Regions from separate parts of the Homo sapiens genome. Here region 2 is linked to region 1. Evidence: fine-mapped expression QTL. Tissue or cell type: neutrophils. Region 1 holds a variant in brackets; the other region holds the start of a gene. All regions are shown on one strand. Distances are between the middles of the regions.

Evidence for each region. PIP is the estimated chance that this variant, and not a neighbour inherited with it, causes the effect.
Region 2: it holds the start of ECE1-AS1, and the variant in region 1 is fine-mapped to the expression of ECE1-AS1 in neutrophils (BLUEPRINT, PIP 0.95).

Annotation. Positions count from the first base shown.
Region 1 is chr1:21,342,144-21,350,143 of GRCh38, forward strand. It overlaps a transcript of ECE1 not described here. Among named protein-coding and RNA genes, the nearest start is that of ECE1-AS1, 53 kb to the left of the region's middle. RefSeq lists enhancers at 1,144-1,193, 1,744-1,833, 2,578-2,957, 3,658-3,707, 3,718-3,767 and silencers at 3,088-3,197, 3,318-3,507. The variant A/C (reference allele first, on the strand shown) is at 3,549.
Region 2 is chr1:21,288,816-21,296,815 of GRCh38, forward strand. ECE1-AS1 (ECE1 antisense RNA 1) reads left to right here and starts at 4,475. Exons shown (of 3, transcript NR_038404.1): 1 at 4,475-4,928; 2 at 5,119-5,395. ECE1 (endothelin converting enzyme 1) reads right to left here and starts at 1,648. Exons shown (of 19, transcript NM_001397.3): 1 at 1,549-1,648; 2 at 1,255-1,341. The coding sequence starts at 1,599. RefSeq lists enhancers at 92-653, 4,422-4,511, 5,353-6,552, 5,892-6,051, 7,756-8,000 and silencers at 1,330-1,499, 1,550-1,729.

The sequences.
Region 1 (8,000 bases):
AGTAAAGAGCATTCCCAACCCTCAGCGGTAGCCTCAACTCAGCCCCAGCTTGGAAAGTGAAGGAACATTCTCAAGGTGCCACAGCTGCAGATGGGGGATGATGGGTTGGGTCTCCTTCCCCCAACTGTCTGCCAGGTTACCCCTCCAAAAGTCCAGGAGGTTTGTGCCTGTTCTGGTACTATCTTGCTCTGTGACCCTGGGCAACCTCCTTCACCTCTCTGTGCCTGCTGCAGGGTGGTTTGAGTACAACCGGAGGCAGGAGACATAAAAAGCCTCCTCAGAACCCTCGGCCCACGGCTTGCACTGGGAGAAAACAGGGGGAGACGGTCCATCCGAGGCCCTTAAGAACAGCACTGACTCCCTGCCAAGGGGTTAGAGACGTGGGTGGGGAGCTGGTGACCATCAGGGAGATTCAGTGAGGACAACAGGAAACACATCACACAGACACACAGACACACACAGATACACACACACACACACACACACACACACACACACACACACGCCCTGCAAACGCGCCGCATTAGGAACCCAGGGGCCAAGGACAACTTGGCCACACTGCAAAGAAGTGAGTGCTGGATTTGTTTAAAAGCCGCGGAGCAGGAGATCCAGGGAATAAACACTTGATCAGTCCCGAATCACCCCTGCCTCAGGAATGACAGCACAGGAACCAATGTTTAGAGGAAATTAAAATGACAGGAGCCAGGGAGGCCTGACATCAGCCGCCACCCCATGCATGCACCGCCGGTCAACAATCCACCGTGGACTTCCTCAGCCTAGTACTTTCTGGCCCCAGCAACCTTTTTGCCCTCTTTCTCTTTTGTTTCCTGACCCTTTCATAGCCAGGTGCCAGACCAGCCCCATTCTGGCCTTTCCAGGAGCCTGTCCTGTGCACTCACACCTCTGCTCCTCTGTCACACAGGTCCCCCTCCCGGGACACCCCTTCCAGTTCAGATGTCACCTGCTCCATGAAGCTTTCTCTCGTCTCTCCAGCTTGGAGAGAGCCCCTGCCTGGCATATTTCTACCTCTCCAAGGACGTGCCAAAAAGTCTGAGGACCAGTGCAGACGTTTATGGCCTGGTGGAAGCTCCCATAACACTGTTTATTCAGTCAATTCTTTCCTCCCTCACATGGGGTTTGGCTTAGAGTAAGTGTTCAACACGTCCTGGCTAAATGACAGACGAAAGTATCACGGTCTCCTCCCTACAACATGATAAACTTTCATTCGTCTTCCAGACCAGCAAATAGGTGGCCTCTGTCCCTGTGCTGGAAAAGCCAGCCCATAGCCCTGGACAGATGGATGACAGACTTTTGTTTTGGATTCCAGAGACAACCCCTGGGGCAAATAGGTTAGATGTTAGGTAGAACTTCCCAGCGTGGGCTCAAGCTTGGAAAAGAAAACTAAGCAGTACTGAAGCAAAGCACTCTCACTTGGGTTATCTCACCCTTTGGAGGTAAGTGTTATCATCTCATCTTGCAGATGAGGAAACTGAAACTCAAGGGTGATGCTTCACCTAGACCAAAGTCCCTGTGGGGAAGTGGAGGGGATGGGGTTCAAACACAAATTGGTGTGACGTCAAAGCCTGGACTCTTCACAATAGGCTGGTGGGCTTCTTCAGTTGTAAGGATCTATAAAGTGTCACCAAGGCAAAGTGAGGGGACCTCTTTCTTTTTTTGGTGGTTTTTAAGGAAGAAAAAATTTTCTTTATGAGTAACTCAGGGTGGGCTTAGAGGCAGAGGGGATCATACAACCTCAAAGTCTCACGGCCTTTTGGTGCCCATACACTGAGACTTTAAATCCAGTGCTGGTCCACAGATAGTGCACTCCCTGTGTCGGAAACGGTCTGGGTGGGGCATTACAGGGGAGATTCCTAATGGAGGAGGTAGGTTGAGTCTCACGTGGTCTCTAAGCACCTTCAGGTATAGAACTAAGCCATAATTCCACCACTTCTGACTCTAGTGAGGCAACTGGCGGTGCCTAAGCAAAGAAGACCCTAGCTGGGTGAGAAGAGGCCTTGGAAGGGAGAGATGGGGGGGCGGGTTGTAAGGGGACTCCAGCTCTGGGCACAGCAGGGGCTGGGAACCACTGTGGGACTCTTCGGCTTTACAGGGGGTCCCATCCTGCTCCCATCCAGGCGCCCTCGGGCTTGGCAGCATCATCACAGAGAAGTGGAGGGGCTGGATCACAGGTACTGGCAGCCACCATCCCAGGCACATGCCCTCCTCAGCCCTACATGGTGACTTTGACCCACTTCACAGGGCACAGAACAGAACTAGGAGAGGGAATCCGAGTGGCTCGTCTATAGGGAAAGAAACCAAAGAGAAGTAGATGGCTCCCTTCCCGTGATGGAGAGGCCGGCACCCGGCCCTGGACAAGTGGACAAAGGGCCTTTGCTCTTGGGGTCCAGGGACAATGCCCCTCCCAACAGCCCCCCCCCAGGAAGCCCAGCCTGGATCAAATGGATTTCTCTTCTGGGGCTTTAGAGAGCCCCATGAAACGCCCCTCCCCAGTTCCCTTTCTCCCTGGTACTCCTGCCTATCGCAGTCAGCACTCGGCCTCAGCAAGCCCCTCCTCTGAGGACCCATCACCGGGAGATGCTGGGGAGACCGGATCGCTGGGTGCAGGGCCCCTGAGTGTCCCCTGGTCTCTGACAGCACCGACCTAGCTGCGTCGCCACCACATACACCCCTTAGGCCACAGCTGGATCAGCAGTCCCAGAGGGCCGCAACCTAGCCCTCCGAATGCGCCGGGCGTGGCCACCCACAGTGCCCCAAGGCGAGCCCCAGACCGACCTCAGTGTCCCGGGACGCTCAGGTCCAGCTGCATCCAGGCACCTCGAAATCGCCGCCACCCGCGAGCCCGACCCAGCCCGGCTGCCCTGGGTCTCCAAGCCAAGCTGAGTCCAGGGACTTCAGAACAACCCAAAACAGACCGCAGCAACCGTCCCCAAAGCGAACCGGGGACCCCGAGCCCCCCACATCCGGCTGGGACCAGAACCAAGCTCGGCGCGGCCGCCCCCGACGGGACCAAGCGCAGCGCCGCCGGGAGAGCCGCGCTCTGCCCGGGCGCTCCCCGACTCCACGCCTTCCGAGAGCCGGGCGGGGGCTGCTGCTGCAGCCGGCGCCCAGCCCCCCGCGAGCCAGGGCGGCCCCGGGTGCCACCCGCGGCACCGCTGCCCGCGACCGTCGAGGCTGGGCTGGACCGGACCAGACCTCCGCGCGCAGCACTCACCATAGCTCGCGTGCTCCGCCCCGGCTTCGCGCAGCTCCCCGCGCCCGGCTCCCGATTCCCAGCTCCGGGTTCCCTGCTCCCAGCCCAGCTGCTCGGACGGCTCGGCTGCCTGGCCCAGGCGGCGCGCTCAGCTCCAGCGGGCGAGCTCGCGGCTTCGGCGCCGAGTGCCGGAGGGGCGGGGCCGCCGCGGGGCCAATGGCAGGGCGCGGGGGCCTGGGTGGCGCAGCCAATCACGGCCTGAGGCTGCACTCCCCGCGCCCGCGCGGGCCCTTAACCCTTGGCGCGCTGGGAGTCGGCTGCCCGGGCTGCGCGGGGA[A/C]CCTGGAGGGCAGGAGCAGGCGGGAGTTGTTGCTTCGGGGCGCAGGGTCCAGACCTTGCCGAGACCGGCGTTGGGAGCTAGCAGAACCGGGAAGAGGCTCGATTGTGTCCGGTGGGGCCGCCGGGAGCCTCGGCGACCTTTGTCTCCTGCCTGGCTCCTGCACTGGAGTGTGACCCGGGGCGCTGCAGCTGCTTGTGTGTGTGTGTGTGTGTGTGTGTGTGTGTGTGTGCGCGCGCGCGCGCGCGCGCGCGTGTGTGTAAGAGGGAGGAGAAGAGGAGACAGAAACGGTGGGAGGGGTGGATTCCGCGTGCCCGTGTGCTTATGTGTGAAGGAAAGTCCTGACTATATTTGGGATTTGTTGCTCTGTGTGTATATGTGCGTGTGTGTGTTTGCTATATTTGGGGTTCGTTGCTGTGTGTGTGTCCGCTGTATTTGAGGTTTGTTGCTGTGTGTGTGTGTCCGGTATATTTGGGGTTTGTTGCCGTGTGTGTGTGTGTGTGTGTGTGTGTGTGTGTGTGTGTGTAAGAGAGGAAGAGAGATGAGGAGACAGAAAGTGGGGGAGGGGTGGATTCCGCGTGCCCGTGTGTTTATATGTGAAGGAAAGCCCTGACTGATTTATTTGGGATTCGTTGCCGTCCAGGGACTTCAGGACAACCTGTGTCCGCTATATTTGAGGTTTGTTGCCGTGTGTCTGTGTGTCGCTATATTTGGGGTTCGTTGCTGTGAGTGTCTACTATATTTGGGGTTTGTTCTGTGTGTGTCCACTATATTTGGGGTTCATTGCTGTGTGTGTGTGTCTGCTATATTTGAGGTTTGTTGCTGTGTGTGTGTCTCCGCTATATTTAGGGTTCATTGCTGTGTGTTTGTGTGTCTGCTATATTTGGGGTTCGTTGCTGTGTGTGTGTGTCCGCTGTATTTGGGGTTTGTTGCTGTGTGTGTGTGTGTCCCCGTGATAGAGGGGTGAGGGAGGGAATGGTAGCAAAGCAGAGAGAAGGAGCCGTGGCTCTCTAGGCGTGTGAATTTGCAGGTCCAGGAGAGACACTGTCTCCACGTGTAGGTTTTGTGAGGTCAAGGGAAGGAGGAAGGAACAGAAGACAGCCTGCCTGTGTGTGTGTGTGATGTGTGATCTCCACTTTTGGGTCCTGTTGTACATGCATGTTAATGTGGTAGAAAGAAATGTGGTGTCCCTGTTGTAAACAAGTTGTGAAAAAATCCTGGGTTTTTGTGGTGTAGTTTGCGTGTGTTGTACGTGCCCACACAAAAGAGGGACATGGCTGTGATTTGGTACAACTTTGTGTGTAACCCAGTTTGCAAGAGACATCGAGATAAAAACATTGTGTGTGTGGTGACACTGTGGTCTTTGTGTGTGACTGTTGTGTGACTTTTGTGATCATCTATATTTGGGTTGGGCTGAGAAAGAGAAACTACTGTGTAGGGGGCATAATGAGTGTATGTTCAGGAGAAAGACATCCTGGCGGCATTGGGATTTGGGCTTTGAAGGATGTCTAAGAGTTCATTAGGCCAGACAGAATGCTCGTGAGGCCAGAGGGAAAGATCCGGGGAATCCTGCCTATCAGCCAACGGGGGTGAGGAGGCTGTAGTGGTGGGTGACCAGGGTGAATTTGGAAACAGAACCTACTGCCAGCAAGGAAGAGGAGGAGCAACTGACTGCAACCCTTGCCCAGGTGCTGACCCAGAGTGGCCCTGGATGCGTCTGGGCACACAGAGTCATTCTAAAGCGGACCATCTGTTCCTGGGCAGTTTGTTTGGGAACCTGGAGGGCGGGGAGGGGCTCTGTGGAAATAACTCTATGTTGCTCCTTCCTTCCAGCAGCATTCCAAATTCTTCAGTGTGGAGGACTCAGGGAGGTCGAAAAGCTCCTTGAGTGCAGCAGTTGGGAGCATGGTGAAGGGGGGAGGGTCTGGCCGTGTCTGCAAGGTGACCAGACCTGAAGGTCCAGAGCCCCCCTCCATCATGGGGTACTTAAACTATCAGCTGCCCTGGCCTGGTGTCCGATTCCTGACTATTCCTCAAGTGTCTTCCTAAGAATCATAGCCTGATGCCTGCAGAGACATTGAAGATCCAGGGACACACAAAAATGAAACCCAGTTATCCTGGCACTCCACTTGCCAGCAATGTGATTATGTTCTCTTCTCTCTGAGCTCCCGTTTTTGCCTCTGTAAAATGGTGTTCATAATTCTTACCCACCTCACTGTACTGTTGTAAAGATTTAAGGAGTTAATATACCTCGTGGGCCTTTTGTAACTTAACAAACCGCTAGAAAGCCTTTAAGCATTGCTCCATTTACAAAAAGTTCAAAAAATAAGCAAAATTAGACCTGTGCTGTCAGAAGTTAGGTTTGTGTTATCTTTGGGGAGGGAATGACTGGAAAGGGGCACCAGGGAAGCTTCTGGGTGCTAGTAAGGGTTAGGTACGGAGGAGGGAGTAGTTCAGTTGTGAAAAATTGAGCAGTCTCCTTAGGATCTATGTGCTTTTCTGTCTCTGTTACTCTCTAACAAGAAGTTTCCAAAAGAAAAAAGGGCCAGGTGCAGTGGCTCATACCTGTAATCCCAGCACTTTGAGAGGCCAAGGCAGGCGGATCACCTGAGGTCAGGAGTTCAAGACCAGTGTGGCCAACATGACAAAACTCGTCTCTACTAAAAATACAAATAAATTACCCGGGCATGGTCGTGGGCACCTGTAATTCCAGCTACTCAGGAGGCTGAGACAGGAGAATCGCTTGGACCGAGGAGGCGGAGGTTGCAGTGAGCTGAATCACGCCGCTGCCCTCCAGCCTAGGTGACAGAGAGACTCCATTTCAAAAAAAAAAAAAAAAAAAAAAAGGCAGGGCTCAGTGGTGGATCACTTGAGATCAGGAGTTTGAGACCAGCCTGGCCAACATGGCAAAACTCCATCTCTACTAAAATACAAAAATTAGCTGGGCAGGGTGGCGGGTGCCTATAATCCCAGCTACTCCGGAGGCTGAGGCAGGAGAATCACTTGAACGTGGGAGGCAGAGGTTGCAGTGAGCTGAGATCGAGCCACTGCACTCCAGCCTGGGCGACAGTGAGAATCCGGCAAAAAAAAAAAAAAAAAAAAAAAAAAAAAAAAATCAGAAGGTCAGGTATAGGTATTATGACCACATTTTAATCACTCATAAAATGGACATTCTGGAATGCTGTATCAGCTCAGGGCAGAGTACTGGGGACACTATATTGAGTAAGGTGTGGTTCTCCTGGCTCTATGAAGAAAGCAGAGGAGAAAGGCTGTGGCTTTCTTGCTTCTGAAAGGGGCACATTAAGGATGGGGCGGGGCGGGCAGGGAGTGAGGGGCAGCATGCCCAAACCCACTCCAAAGCCACTCACCCGGCTTGACAGCAGAATCAGGACTAGAACCAAGGCCTCCCAAGGTGATGGCTGAGTCTTTTCCATTCTACCAGGCTGCTCCAGAAAACGCAGCCCCTGGTCTTATGCTGCTCAAACGGAAGCAAGCAAGTGAGGTTTGCTGCCGACTCTGACCCTTACCTCCAACTCCTCCAGGATCTTCAGAGATCACCTCATCCAAACAGCTTTCTGGGAACGGCCAGCCATAACAAATGCTAAGCATTTATTATGTGCCAGACATGGTGGCAGGTGCTTTGCAGCATTATCTGAGTGATTCTCACAATTCTATGTGGTAGGTGCTAGGATTCCCACATCACCTCCATATTGCAGGTGAGAAAATCAATGTTCAGAGAGGGAAAGTGATTTGCCCGAGAAGACACAGCTAGTTTGAGGGGCTTTGCTCCTTTGCTGGCATGCAGCTGCTTCTGTTGGTATTCATGGGCTCGCCATGCCCTCTGACAGACACAAGTGGTTTCATGACAGGAGAAGGTGTCCCCTGTTAGACTGCTGGAGACTGGATGAGATGTGGGGAGTTGCCCCTTCCAAATACTCAAGCCTCTGGGCACAGGGTCTGCCCCATCGGAGCATCAGGGCTCAAACGCAGAAAACCAACCTGAATTGGCCAGAGCCAATTGAGTTACACAGAGCCTGTGTAACTACAAAGTACAGGGGCAGAGCTAGCTTTAGGCATGGCTCCAAGAGGAGCTCAGATGATGACATTAGGATTCAGTCTCATTTACTCCATCTCTGAAGACCGCTTCCCTCCCTGCTGGCCTCACCTCTTGGCCTCATGATGACAAGATGGCTGCCCTCAGCAGTGGCTCACATCCTACTCTCTTATCAACTCCCAGCGGAAACAGGGACTCACTTTTTCCTACAGTTCTAATTAACATTCCCAAAACTGAGTCTTGTCGACTGTCACTGAGACATGTGTCAATTCCTCTGCCAATCACTGTGGCCAAGGGTTCTGATTAGCCAGGAAGTGAGACCCTGGAGATACCTGGCATTGTAGTTTAGGTGTGGGTTTCCAGCCATGCAGCCTCAGGACTCACCAGGATCCAAAAGGAAT
Region 2 (8,000 bases), 53 kb before region 1:
GGTGACCGAAGGCCAGTGGTTGCCCCTCTCAGAGCCTCAGTTTCCACATCTGTAAGTGGGGACAGTAATCCCTACAGGTCTCAGGGGTGTTCCTGAAGGTTAAGCAGGGGTACCACACATCCCAGTGGGTAGAGCCCTTGGGACTGTGAGTTTGGGTCCCCTGGGCCTATGTGACCCTGGAGGAGGAACTCCATCAATGGTGTCTCCCTGCGCTGGGAGGATTATTCCCGCTTCTAAGAGGCGTATCTGAGTGGAGTGGGCCTGGCAACTAAGCGTCCATTCATCCTAAGCTCGCCTTTGGGAAGAGTTGTGTGCCAGTTCACCAAGTGGCCCCAAGATTCTCCCAAATACTTCCCTTGGTCTACCTGGCAGAAGTCCTCCGAGAATTGGGGTGCCCCAGCTCCTCTTTCTACACTGGCTTCTCAAGAGCCAGATCACTGGGTCTCCTAGGGTGTCCGCAGCGTTTCCAGCACCTTCCCACGCACCTGGCTGGCTCCAAACCCCTCCAGCACTGAGGTCTTGGCCACAACTGTCCCAGTGCAGCCCCCCAGGGACGGGAGGGCAGAAAGCAGCCTTGCTCAATGTCCTGTTACAAGGCAGGGACGGGGGTGGGGCCCTCCCCAGGAGTGGGCAGATGGGATGCCCACGGGCGGAGACCCTGGGGAGGGGAGGAATTGGACTTCCTTAGTAGGCTGGAAAAGGGGCAGGGAGAGGGGGCAGAGAACAGGTTTCTGGCCCCAGGAAACTCAGGTATTGGGAGGGCAAGAGGAAGAGGGTGGTACTGCCTCCCGGATAAGGTGACCAACTTTCCCAGTTTGCCCCGGACTGGGGGAGTGGGTTCCAGGGATGCAGGGCTTTCCACGCTAAAACAGAAACAGCCGTAGACTCTGCCGGTAAAGGGCCTGGGCAAGTCCCGGGACATGCACAAACTGTGCCTTCTGTGGAAAGGGAACTGGACCAGTTCGGGTCTCGGGGGTGCTTTCAACTCTGCCACCTGGGCTGTGGCCCCAGAAGCAGGTGGCCGGGAGGCTCTAGGGATGGCGGGGGCAGGTGAGGGGAGACTGGTGGGCTCCGGAAGGCTTCTCAGCGCGGAGCTCCAGCTGCGGGGAGGCGCGGCCCCTCCCGGATGCCGGGACGAGGGAGGGGAAGGGAGGGGAAGAGGCGGGGTAGGTAGGGGCGGGGGGCGCGGCAGCGGCAGCGCGCATGCCCGGGCCCGGGGCGCCTGGACCTCGGGAGGGAGCGGAGGGCGCCTACCTGCAGGCCGTTGGGGTATGCGTCGCCCTCGGAGAGCGAGTCCACCAGGTCCTCCTCGTCCAGCGTGGCCCGCTTGTACGTCGACATCTGCAAGGCCAAATGCAGCACGGACTCCCTCAGCGCCTCCATGGCTCTCGCGCCCGAATGGGGAAGCGGCCCCGACCCTGGCGCCGCCGCCGCCGCGCCCCGCCCCGGCCTGGACACCCGAGACCGAGACCGGCCCACGGAGCGGCCCGCGCGGGGAGGGGTCCCGCCCGCCTCCCGCCCCCGCCCTCCAGGCCGCGCCCGCCTCACCCCCAGCGCCGACAGCAGGGCGGACACCGGGGGCGGCCACACGCCCCGCATGCTGTGCCCCAGACGCCTGGTCCCGCTGCCCGGGTGGCCGGGATGGGATGGGCCGGGCCAGGCGTTGCACCACCTTCGCGGGCGGGGCCTGATCGGTTCGCCGGCGCCCGGTTCCCAACCTCCGGCCTCCCGGGGAGACCCCAAGACCCGAGAGGCCCGGGGGAGATGGGGACCCCTCCCTTCCCCGGAGGTCGGGAGTGGGGGCCCCCAAACTGAAGCCCCTAGCAGGCAGGAAAGGCCCTCACAGTGACCCCTCCTTCGAGAAAATCTTAAGTCCCCCTTCAACAACCGGGTCCCCAGTGGCAGATAACAAAAGTATCAGGAAGGTGCCCTCGATGTGGCCCAGAGCAATCAAGACAGGTTCCCCCCGGCATCAGCCCTTAGGTGTGTCTAGGGGGTTAATGCTAGAAAGACCAGACAAAAAAGGTGGGGTAAAAAGGTAGGTGTCCCCTTTCAGTTCCCCTTTCTAGCTCAGAGGCCTTTAAGCCAGAGTTCGTGAATGAGTTTCAGAAAATTTCAGAGAACTCCCTGACACGGGATGAAAGGAGCTGTGTGTGTGCATTTGGATGGCTGCAGGGTGGTCCGGTGGTCACCCCCGTGCTCAAAGGTGTCGCCCTCCCTGCAACACAAGAGAACCATTGCTCCAGGGGGAGTCAGAAGCCAGGAAGGGGACCCTTCTTTCCCATCTTCCCCCTCAAGACTCGGAGCCTCAGCCAGGTGCCCCCCTCCCCAGCCCCTGAGCCCTCTCCTATAACCCTAGGCAGGGAAAGGGGGCTCTCTCGGATATGAGGTGTTCAGTTAGGGACTCAGGCCCAGCACTGTCCCAACCAAGAACCCCAGAGAGGTCTAACCCAGCAGATTTCCAAAGGACTCTCCGCTTCTAGCAAGGCGGGAATCCCTGCATTTATGCGTACTTTTCAGCTTTGCAAAGTGCATTTCTGCTCATTCCAAATTTGATTCTCACAGTCACACATATGTGTGAATAAACAGGTTTAGAGGGGTGAGGGGCCTGACGTCACAGGGACAGTGAGGGCAATGGCTCCAGATGGTCTCCTGGCTTCCACTCCTGCCCTCTGACAGCCCCCTCAGCAGCCAGGATGAGCCTTTAAAATGAAATCTGGCTGAGGCCAGGCACCATGGCTCGCTCGCGCCTGTAATCCCAACACTTTGGGAGGCCAAGTTGGGTAGATCACTTGAGGTCAGGAGTTCAAGACCAGCCTGGCCAACATGATGAAACCCCATCTCTACTAAAAATACAAAAAATCAGCTGGGCCTGGTGGCATGCATCTGTAATCCTAGCTACTCAGGAGGCTGAGGCAGAAGAATCGCTTGAACCCAGGAGGTCGAGGTTGCAGTGAGCTGAGATTGTGCCACTGTACTCTAGCCTGGGTGACAGAGTGAGACTCCATCTCAAACAAACAAACCACAGAAATCTGGCTGGGTTCAGTGGTTCACACCTGTAATCCCAGCACTTTGGGAGGCTGAGGCAGGAGATCACTTGAGTCTAATTCTAGGCCAGCCTGGGCAACACGGACCCCATCTCTACAAAAAGAAAATATATATATATATATTTATATATTATATATTTTTAATTAGCAGGACGTGGTGGTATGCGCCTGTAGTCCCAGCTACTTGGGAGGCTTAGGTGGGAGAATCGCTTGAAGCCAGGAGGTGGCGGCTACAGTGAGCTGTGATTGCACCACTGCACTCCAGCGTGGACGACACAACAAGATCTTGTCTGAGTAAATAAATAAAATAAAAAAAAATTCTGATATTACCACTCCCTTGCTTAAAAACCCTCCACTGTCCTGGAATGAAATCCAAACCCTTCACCAGGCCCCATGGCCCCTGCCCACTCTGGGCCCTCATCTTGTGCTGCCAGCGCCCCCTCCCCCACCAACCTCCTCACACAACTCCTCAGTTTCTACAAGTTTCTTCTTCCCCCAAGACCTTTGTAGCTGCTGTTGTCTCTATCTGGAACATTTTTTCCTCCTCTCTACTCTTCCCATGGTCAGCTCCAACTTCAGATCTCAGCCTACCAGCTCCTCAAATGTCCCAGGAACCCTAAGCAGTCCCCCAAATTCTCTGTTACAGCATCCTGTTTGTTTTCCTTTACAGTACTTGTTGCAGACTGTTTTGTTTCCATGTCTTTATCATCACTGTCTCTGTCCCTCTCCAGAATCCACAGCTTTACTGGGGCTGGGACCTTGTCTGGCCTGTCCAACAGAGACTCTCCATCACCCGGCACAGAGTAGGTGCTCAACAAACGGTTGTTAAAATCAAAGGGGGGACAAGTAGAGGGGAAGTGCCTTCAAGTTCTCAAGAACTCTCCTGCATCTAACTTCATAATGCCTACAGAAACAGGGAACACATCTAAAGGTCACAGGCCCTGGGGAGGCAGGGTGCATGGGAAAGCTCTGAATTCTGGAGACTTCTGCCTCACTCCCACTGGGTGGAGGAGTTTCCATTACCCATCCCAGAGAGAGAGGGGACTCTGAGGCTGCTTCACTTACTGCTGGGTTGCAGCTGGGCTTTTTCTAGAACAGGACACTTGGTTACACTACGTTACCAGGTGTCGATTGCCAGAGGAAAAGACTTTTGAAAAAGAAGTTCAGTTCACAGAACATCTCCCCGGGGCATGTGGGTGGTGTAAGGGATTCACCCGGCTGGTGTACGGGATTTGTCAGTTCTTTTATACCATCTCTTTTAAGCTTCTCACCCTTCCCTCAGAAGCAGGTATCACTGGTTCCTTTTACAGAGAATGAAACTGAGGCTTGGGGAAGTTAACTCGCCCAGGTGTGGTTAAGCGATGGCTCCTCCTCCTTCTGTCTCATTTCAGAGATTTCCCCCTTCTGGCAAGCTCTCCTGACCACCCTCCAGGGACCCCAGACAGCATTTGGTCCCTGGCTCTGTGTCCCCACACAGCCACCCTACCCCATGCTGCCTTTTACTGAGGCACACAGCATTTTAGACAGGAGAACCCTGATGGCAGAGGCTGGGTCTCACGGGACCCTGTCTCCTTAAGGGCTTAGTCTGGGGCTGGAGCCTCTACAGATGTTTGAGCAAAGGCGGGAGGCAAGGGAGGGAGGCCGGAAGCCACCCCAGGGACTCTGATGTCCACCCTGCGGCAGCCTGTCTGTGGACAGATGATGCAGGAAGCTCACGGAACTCCCAAGCAGAAATCAGCAGAGATGGAGCCTGGTTATTTTTCAGCACACAAAAGCCGAGGGCCCCTTCCTGAGATGCCTGCCTCAGCCCGGTAGTGAAACTGAACCCACCTCAGACGGGAAAGGCTTGGCGGGCTCTGCTTGGTGGGAAGTCCACAGTGGGTGAGTGACATTTCAACAGCTGCCTGGGGCCCTTCGCCCAGGGCCTTCCATTCACTACCCCAATGGCTCCCCACACCCACCTAGAGCCTCAGCCTCACAAGTACCGCTTCCAGCTTACAGAGAGGGGGAGGGGCCTAGACAGACCAAAAACCAACCATGCCACTTGACAAATTCTCTCCTAACCCCACAGTGCCTCGTCCCTGAGATGAGAATCATCACCTCCGCTTTACAAATGAGATGACCAAGGGTCAGAGAGGAGAAAGGACCTCCCCCCAGCCCTGAGTCACCTGCCTGGAGACTGAGGGAGCCATAATGCGAATCTTCCCCTTGCCAAACCCACTGACTCCATTACGCTGCCTCCAGAGAACCCGAGCCCCGCGGCGAGAAAGTGGTAGAGCTGGGCCTCGAACCTGGGTCCTGGACTCTTGGTCCTGTGCTCCTTGTGGAAGATGGAACTGCTTCTTCAGGTGGGAACCTCACAGAGTCTGGGTGCCCTGGGCAGACTGAGGCTCTGGGCTGACAGGGCAGCCAGCACTTATTCTCCCTAATTGTCTCATTTGCAGTTGTGGGTGCCACGCCTGGCCCCGAGTGTGTTGGGGAAGGTAAAGAACCTCCACTTTGGTCTTCTCAGTTCCCTTCCTGGCACTGTGCAGCCGTGGAGGAGAAATCTGGGTTGAATCTGGGTCTAGTGTTCAAGAGGAGGGCCTGGCAGAAACCAAGAGTGAAGGGGTGGAACCACAGCTCCCTGTGGACTGCCCCGTCCTCAGTCCCCGGTGCCCCAGCTGCACAGAGGAAGTGATGACAGCCAGATGAAGGTGCAACAGTGCCCAGCTCTGGAAACTCCACCCTTGTAAATCAAAGGCCTGTGGTGAGCAGAAACGAGAAATATAAACACGCACAGGTTTCTGGCGACAAAAGCCTCCTGGCCTGGTAGCACCTGGGCATGACCCCCTTTGCCCAGACGACATTAGTCACTCATATGGCTCTTGCGTTTGGTTGGCCAAAGGCGGGGGATTGTTAAGTCATCTTGGGGTGATGAGGTGGAAAAGGGAAGCCCCACATGTGAAATTCTGAGGCCTGGGACTGAGCCACACCCTCCACAGCTACTTTCACATTGTCTCTAAGCCTCAGCTCCTTAGAGACGCTGCCCTTTGTGGCCGAAGTCCCCATCAGTTACTACTTTTGGTGCTGGTAATTGGCTGGGATCTGTTCAATCTTTACATGTCATCTAAAACACACTCATATTATCTGGTAGCTAAACACTTATATTTCACAGATGCTATAATGTAGTGGGTAAAATCTCTGGATCTAAACCTCATTTCAGATCCCCAGTCTGAACTTCCCAACTCTGTGACCCTGAGCAAGTGACTCAGCCTCTCTGTGCCTCAGTACTCATCTGTCAAATGAGGAGGATGATGATAACAATAGTACCTCCCTCATAGGACTGTGGTGACACTTAAATGAGTTAATATAGATAAAGTGCTTGGCTGGGCATGGTGACTCATGCCTGCAATCCCAGCACCTGGGGAGACCCAGGCCGGAGGATTGTTTGAGGCCAGGAGTTCAAGACCAGCCTGGGAAACACAGCAAAACCCTGTCTCAAAAAAACAAAAACAAAAACAAACCCAAGTAACACAACTTTGGGCAAGGGATAAGATATAAAAATATGGCTATCATTTCTAAAGATATGCCACTTGACATTTATTATTATTACATTATCCATTATATTTCCCAGTATTTTTCACCAGAGAAATTTCCATGTGATTAGCTTATTTTAAAATTTACTATGAAGTTCCTGAAAGTGTAAACTGCTTCTTTACTTTTTAATAACAGGAATCAGCTTGTATCTCTTTTTTCTTTGGCTGCCAGGAAACTCATAGCCAAATCAGAAACTCGCCTATGGGCACTTTCTTGGCCTTTAGGTTCAGCTTTTTCCTTGTCCACATTTTCCACTCTGTTTTCCGTGATTCTGATTTTCCATTTGGTATTGCATGTCGTTTTACTGAATGTATTTTATTTATAACCTATCATGAATCCTTTGTGGAACAGAGTTAGAAACAACATTTATCAGGCAATTAAGACAGACCTGAGCCCACTCACAGGTTTCCTGGCTCATGTGACCTCGGACATGTTGTTTTCACCCTCAGGTCTCAGTTTCTTCATCCGTAAAAGGGCCATTGTAAATACCGAGTAAGCTAGAACATGAACTGCCTGGCATCCAGCAGCCCAAGCCTGCGTGAACCACACCAGAGGGACATCCTGCGCAGGCCACCTCTTTCTGCTTGCTTCTTCTTGTCTTCCTCACCACCCCTCCCATTTGCTTCTGCCCTCATCCAGATTTTCCAGTCTTGGCCTTTGTTCAGCCAACATTTGTTGTTACTCTAGCCCTGCTGTAAACTCAGTGAAAATAACAGATTGCCCAGGTGATGGAGGTTAATATCAACAGCAAGAAGTCAAATACGAGTTATTAATAGAAATCATGTACCCTTCAGCCGGGTGCTCATGCTTGTAATCCCAGCACTTTGGGAGGCGAGGTGGGCAGATTGCTTGAGCCCAGCAGTTTGCGACCAACCTGGGTAACACAGTGAGACTTTGTCTCTACAAAAAATTTAAAAAAAAAATTAGCTAGGTGTGGTGGCATCCACCTGTGGCCCCACTACTTAGGAGGCTGAGGTGGAAGGATTGCTTGAGCCTAGAAGGTTGAGGCTACAGTGAGCTGAGATCACGCCACTGCACTCTAGCTTGGGTGACAGAGCAAGACCCTGTCTCAACTACAAAAAAAAGAGAGAGAAATAAAATAAAATAAAGTAAAACAAAACAAAACAGAGTCATTGACCTTGACATTGCCCAGTTCTCAAGGCTCTTTTACTCTTGTGTCTTACAATCACCATGTGGGATAAGTCCTGGGATCCCCATTTTACAGATGCAGAGACTGAGGCTCAGAGAAAGGAAGCAGCTTGCCAGAGCTGGAGCCCAAACCCAGATCTTCCTGGTTATCTCAGGGCCTCACCTCCTTTTTTTGTGCCTCCTACCCGGGGCCTGGCTCTGTAGGCTAACTTCCTTTAGAGGCTA